Homo sapiens: one gene and its partner. The protein of the gene in region 2 purifies or fractionates together with the protein of the main gene of each other region. This does not show direct contact. Each region holds a gene or a part of one and is shown on either strand. Other genes may lie near its edges.

Region 1 (3,500 bases), about 150 Mb from region 2:
GGTTTAGGGACTCCATCATTGTATATTAGATAGGCTGTGTTGTTACTCTGCAGGAATATATTAGGGTTATAATGGCGTAAATCTTCCACTTACAAACGCCCACAACATTTCTACCAGCTACCCAGCCTGCAATACATTGCTTTCATTAATACACATGAGAAGTCATCTATTCCCCTAATAGGCAGCTTCCCCATCAATATGAAGCCTGTGACATGAAAGACAGGGGAAAGAAAGTCCATTTTTAACTGTGCATGATTTTTACTCATGTGACAGGAGCCCTGTGCATTGTGATCTGTGTGTGAGGGCAATGTTCCTATTTCTCTTGGTTGTTTTGGAACCAAGTTTCTGATTAAGCAACCAGTGTATAATAAAGGAGTACTGAATTATTTGTTCAGGAAATGAAGTAGGAACAACCAACCAAGGATTACATCTGAGGTTTTTTCCATTGATATTATAGGCACAGTGCAGAACTGGCTGTCAGGATCTGATTTTCTCTGCACACTTTGTGCTTCACTTCACTGCTGGGTAGTAGCGTTGTGTTTAATCAGGATCCCTCATTATCTGCTCTCCCTTCCTCCCATTATGAGAGGATTTTTCTGCAATCCATTTTTCAGTGTCACTTCACCTTTCCAACTTGATATTTTCCTGCTTAAAAAAAGTGGTGAAATTTACTGTGTGATATTGGATTTCCTCTGGTAAGGCCAAATATGAGTCAATTTTCAAACAGCCAAATCTTAGAGCCAAAATAAAGCTATTATTTCGATAGTATCTATTTTTCATGTTTTAGAAACTTGCTAATATTTGTTCTAGGTGGTTCCATTTAATTTGTGTGATGATACAACTTTAATTGAAGCCAATAATGTCAATATTAAAAAAATCTGAGTGACATAATTAAAAGCAGGAAAGGATAACCTATGTCCTTAAAAAAGGCCCTTGCTTTTTTCTTAGAAAACAAATTCAATGAAGAAGCCTCTCACAGTTGCTTAATTATATGATGTGATAAAATTTTTTTTTCAATGCACAACATAGTCTGTTGGAGCATTCTTGTCTACTGTGCTTAGGAATGCCCCGAAAAGTAAGCTGTTTTCTTACCTTCATTTTCCATAATTGATCATAGCTACTGAATGGCATTCATATCATCATTTGGAGAACTCTGAAGAGTTAGTTACTCTGTGAACCTGCATTGAATGTGGTAAGGAGGCCATTTGTGTGCCTTTGGGGTACAACATGGAGGAATTCTGGGATGATCCAGTGAGGAATTTATTTTTTATGATAAATGAAGTTTATTGTTCTAACTGAGTGTAACTGCCAGCTGAGGTTAAGTGGATTGTAGCCTTAGTTGGAAGAGAGGCTATTGATAAAGGGAAAAGATCATGGACTTAAGAGTAGGTAGATGTAGGCATGTGCCTTTGAATAGCTTTATTCCTTTAACACATATGTTCAGTATTGTTTTGACTATTGAGTGTTGAACAAGAGGGGTACAGTCTCTGCCCCCTGTCTAGCAGAAAATATAGTCACACAAGTGCAGGCAATATAGTTTGATAAATGTTTATGAAGGTACACGGAAGATTCTTATTTGTAAAGGCAAGAGAAGGGAAACAATTCCAAATGTAACCCAGCTATTGGCCTTGGTCACCTTCACATTTGAGATTTAAACCAGTTGGTCTAATCTTGCATTTCACTCTCTGTCAGAGGTTCAATTCCAGGTCAGGGGGTGGAGGAGTAATATTCTCACAGTCACTTCTGGCACATAATTCCAGCTTCCAAAGAACACTGAGTCATACCTGGATATCACCAACTGCTGTTGCTCTCTTCTTTTGGCTCTATGCCAATCAGGCATGGAAATCAGTCCCTTTCCTGTCATTTTCCCCCCAGAACCAATCACTCAAGACATTGCATGTGGCAGGTTTTACTAAAGGTAAGAAATATTGAATGGTTTTACATCACCATAAGGCCTTACCCCAGTCTTTCTCCATGTTTCTTATGCTTTTTAATCCCTGGCTTCTTTCTGTCCCTTTTTTGTTTAGCAGAGCAGTTTAACTGTGTCTCCCTGCTAGGGTGTGGGGCTACCTTTGCACCTTCAAAGATCATTATTGTATTCCGGCAAGTGAAGGCCTATCTACTCCAACTAAGGCAAATGATAGAGGCTTTACAATGTTGCTCTTTCCTTCTTCCTCCCCTAGCAGTCTCGTTGATGTGGAAAGGAACAATGTAGGCATTATTTTCCCACTAATAGATATGCTTCTGGTCCCCATCCCCAACCTGGAAAGCAGAAGCAGCTGCAGGCGTTTTCATTTTATATAATACGGTTGGCCCTTGGGTTTGAACTGCATGGGTCTATATGTATGCAGGCCTTTAAAAACATATGTTGGAAAATTTAGGGGGAGATTTTTGACAATTTGAAAAAAAAAACTCACAGATGAACCACATAGCCTAGAAATATTTTTAAAAATTAAGAAAAAGTTAGATACATTATGAATGCATACAATATATGTAGATACTAGTCTATTTTTTCATTTGCTGCCCTAAACTATGCACAAATCTATTATAAAAAGTTAAAATTCATCAAAATTTACATATACAAACATAGACCAAACATGGTGCCATTCACAGTCAAGAAATATAAACAAACATAAATATGCAGTACTAAGTCATAACTGCATTAAATTAACTGTAGTAATACTGTACTACTGTAATAATTTTATAGCCACCTTTTGTCACCATTGAGGTGAGCTCAAGTCTTGTGAATATCTGCTGAAAATGCCACATGACACTAACAACCTCCACGTGAGCAGTTCTCTCCAGTAAATTGCATACTGTAGTCAAAAGTGATCTCTCACAGCTCTTGCATATTTTTCATCATGTTTGGGGCAATATCAGAAACCTTGAATAAAACCGTAGGACCTATACTGAGTGCCACTGCTGATGCTGGAAATGCTTCTAACAAGCAAAGACAAGTCATGACATTATAAGAAGATGTTGAATTGCTTGATATGTACTGCGGATTGAGGTCTGCAGCTTCAGTTGCCTGCCATTTCAAGTTAAGTGAATCCAGCATAAGAGCCATTGTGAAAAAAGAAAAGGAAATTTGTGAAGCCCTCACTGCAGCTATGCCAGTAGGCATGAAAACCTTGCACTTTTTACAAAATACTTTTATAGCTCATACTTAAAATTAAAATGCAGCTTTTATATGGGTGCAAGATTGCTATAAGAAAGGAATACTATAGACTCTAATATGATTGGAGAAAAAGTGAAGTCACTATATGACAAAGCAGAAGGAAGGTAGATCATCTAAAGCTGGAGAATTTAATACCAGCAAAGGATGGTTTGACAATTTTAGAAAGAGGTTTGGCCTAAAAAAAAAAAAATTAAGATAACAGGAGAAGCAGCTTTTGCTGACCAAGAGGCAGCAGATGAATTCCCAGATGCCATCAAGAAAATCATTGAGGGGAAATAATTTCTTCCTGAGCAGGTTTTTAATGCAGATGAAAATTCCTTAT
Region 2 (3,500 bases):
ACATGCACATATTAGGAATTTATTTGTTTAGGCCTTCATCTTGTCATTCTTTAGGCTAGTTCTTAAAGGTGGTACTAGCTGGTCTACCCCCCTCCAAATCTGACTAGGGCTTTAACCACTTATACCTATGTTTATTCTTTGGAACACTTGCTGTGAATCAGAATATTGTTAGCTAGAAAATAAGATGTTAAGGGCACGGAAAAAAACCCCACAAAATATATTGGCTAAATCCACTCAAAACTGGAGAAAATACTGTGTGATCTCTTAGGCTCACTAGCCAAGGATGTTCCTTGGGACTCTCCTCTGCACTGCGGTTATTTACATATATACATTAAACATAAAAATATTTCTGAAATAGTGTTATAACTAGTCAGCTAAGTAAAGGAACTGCAAAACTATATTCTTATATTTACTGTGAAAGATAATCAGAAAGAATCTGCTTTATTTAGAACTTGACTAGTCAGTAGTTAAGTATACAGAATGTTCTAGACCTAATGAACTGAATACAGATAAATACAATTTTGTTGTTCTTCATGGAAGAGTGACATTTCAGTAGATCCCCACTCTGCCAGGGGAAGGAATTGTCAAGGTGACTTATTCTTTTGAGCAAGTTCTGATAGTAATTGGAAACTGGTGAATTAGAATGGTAATTAAAGCCCAGTGAAAAATGACCTCCTACTGGAAAAACTGGAGGAATACAGAAGGCTAAAAATAGTGAACACTTAATACCAACAGATTTTCTGAAGGAAGACTTCTTAGTTTCTCTAAATGGGAAATCTTACATTATCCTCTAAAGGAAAAATAAGCAAGTAGTTGAGGAAACTATGTTTTTTTTTTTCCCCCTTTTTCTTGAGACAGTCTCACTCTGTTGCCCAAGCTGAGGGCAGTGGCGTGATCACGGTTCACTGCAGCCTCGACTTCCCAGGCTCAAGCAGTTTTCTTGCCTCAGCCTTACTAGTAGCTGGGACTACAGGTGCATACTACCAGGCTTGGCTAATTTTTGTTTTTTTTTTTTGTAGAGATGAGGCCACTGTGTTGCCCAGGCTGTTTTCGAACTCGTGGACTCAGTGATCCACCTACTTTGGTCTCCCAAAGTGTTGGGATTACAAGTGTGAACCACCACACCCAGCCCAAGTAATGGATTTTTAAGGGCCTCAGTTGCATAGGAGTTTTTTATTCAGGCTGCAAAATTCCTGTGTTTTATTATATATTCCTTTTTATCTGTATTTTCTATTCACAATTCTCTTGTTTCCATAGACCGCCTTTTTCACATATATCCATATATTTATACATTTTGTTGTAAACTCTAGTCTATAGGTATTTTTAATTCACATTGTATATTACATTCTGGAATGTACAAGGAACTAACACAAATCAATAAGAAAACAAATTAGCTTTAGACATTGAAGAATCTCCCCCAACCCATCGTCTATTATTTTTGTCTATGGTGACTTTCGTTTAACAGAAATCCTTGGTTTTTATGTAATCAAATTCATTGTGTTTTTTTTTTTTAAATTAAGAGGTTGGTCTTTTTGAGTCTTAAGAAGTTCCTTTTCATTCGAAGTCATAAAGTTCTTCCCAATAAATTATACAATAAGTTTGTCAGGTTTCTGAAAAACCAAAGCAGATGTTTTTAAACAGCTTTTGATCTCTTGCCTATACGGTGGCTCAACAAACAAGATGCCAGAATTTGCATGTGTGGGGCTGGGTTGTTTTGTGGTAAATAGTGAACTGTCTTAAAGTCCAAAAACAAAGCTTATTATTTCTGGATTGAAAAGGGAATACAGTAAGGGCCCCATGGAAAAGTACTAAGACTTTTTATGAAAATGAGGGGTGGAGGCACTCTGAGTGGTTAGATTTGCTCAACTTGTGTGCACTCGCTCAGTGGAGGAGATAGGAAGAAGGACATGTAAATAATAGGATATTGATTGATATTGATTAATCATTTTGCCGATGCCAAAGGACATACTTCACTGTCTGTGGAAAAGATTGCCTTTTTCTCCCTAGGAAGTTTGAATACCTTTTAAATATGAAATTTCATGTGCATGACCTATTTCCCCACTGCCACACCTCATGCTCACACTAGGCTTATGATTCAGTCACCCACTTAAGTTCACGTGATGTCATTTCAGGGAGAATTGCAGCTACATCCTTTTGAGAAGAAAGCGATTCAGCTGGGCATGTAGGTTAGAGTCTTTAGTTCTTAGTCTTCTCATTCCTCCTGTGAAATTATCTACATTTAACAGCTTTCACTGAGTATTTTCTTCTTTCACTCGACTGTTAGAAGACATTTCCCAACCTGCAAATATGCCATTCCTGCCCCAACATGACCAACTGAGAGCTTCAGGCTTTACATGATTTTTCACAGCCCACTGAGCTTTGTAATATATAGAACACAATCTTTAGAGCTTCAGTCCTTGCTGTGCTATAATACCAACATAATAAGAGTAGCTAATATTTATCAGATGTTTACTATACATCAAACACCAATGTCTCATTTCATGACTTGTGTGACTTAAGAGGTCCAGTTCTTAACACATGGTCTCATTTTAGTATCACAGTTCTGATGATGAAGGCAGGGCTGATGTTTCCTCATCTTGCTGAAGCATGGAGAGGACTTGTCTAAAATCCCATAGCTACTAAGGGGAGCTGGGGCTAAAACCCAGATTTCTTGGGTTTTCACACCCTGCTACTATTAGCTTAAGCCTATCAAATTCTGAGTGCTTATTGGCTGATAGGATAGTCACATCATGGAGTGCCTAAATTAACACTACATGTGAATTTACCGTGTCGACTATAGCTTGAAATGGCGCCCACTGCCTGATGCCTACCAGTCTTTCTATTATACATGCTTCATTAAGCCCTACCTTTTCTCCACATTTCCCAAGAAGTGATTTTCTTTGGTTCTTGAAGTACTTTTGTACAGATCATTGGAGCTTAACTTCGTTCCTTTATCAGGAAGTGTTTTATCTCACCTGCAAGTTCAGTAAACACAATTAGCAAGTGAGGTGGCTTTGGAAAGGAATAGTACACCCTGAAAGAAACATAGTGCCCAGAAACTAGATATTGGATATTGCAAATTTTTCTTTTAGGTTACTAGAGCCACCTTCCTGAAGCCCACTTGGAGAAAGTCACTCAAAATAGTTCTGTGACCACCATTTAGCCCCAGTTCTCATATTGTATACTTGAGACTCTGGACAGTAAGACGAGGCAGGGTTGTAAGTTTGCACCCAATACCAGCTTACAAATATTCTTACATTACTGGTTTGGGTTTTAAATTATCTTTGCCTCTTCTTTCTCATCTTCCCTCACTTTTTTGTCATTTCAATTAAAGAAATATTTGCCAAGTACTGACCTTAGTGTTGCTAGGCATGAGTTCCAAGGAGCTCAGATAGCTTAGAACCAGCCCCATTTGACTTGAGCTTTTCTCGCCTCTTAGCACAGAAGGAATGGGTTGGCGTCATTATGGTTTGTTTTGAGTAACATGTATTCAGTCTGAT

The links. Proteins that work in one complex are often made in the same cells at the same time.
Region 1: the proteins of MTR (region 2) and DNASE2B purify together in Homo sapiens (co-immunoprecipitation; one large-scale study listed by IntAct). This does not show direct contact.

Annotation. Positions count from the first base shown.
Region 1 is NC_000001.11:84,404,984-84,408,483, reverse strand, and holds part of DNASE2B (deoxyribonuclease-2-beta isoform 1 precursor), read right to left. Parts: intron 215-3,500; exon of another isoform or gene 48-214; coding exon 1-47. UniProt on the Homo sapiens protein: Hydrolyzes DNA under acidic conditions. Does not require divalent cations for activity. Participates in the degradation of nuclear DNA during lens cell differentiation.
Region 2 is NC_000001.11:236,798,292-236,801,791, forward strand, and holds part of MTR (methionine synthase), read left to right. Parts: intron 1-3,500. UniProt on the Homo sapiens protein: Catalyzes the transfer of a methyl group from methylcob(III)alamin (MeCbl) to homocysteine, yielding enzyme-bound cob(I)alamin and methionine in the cytosol. MeCbl is an active form of cobalamin (vitamin B12) used as a cofactor for methionine biosynthesis.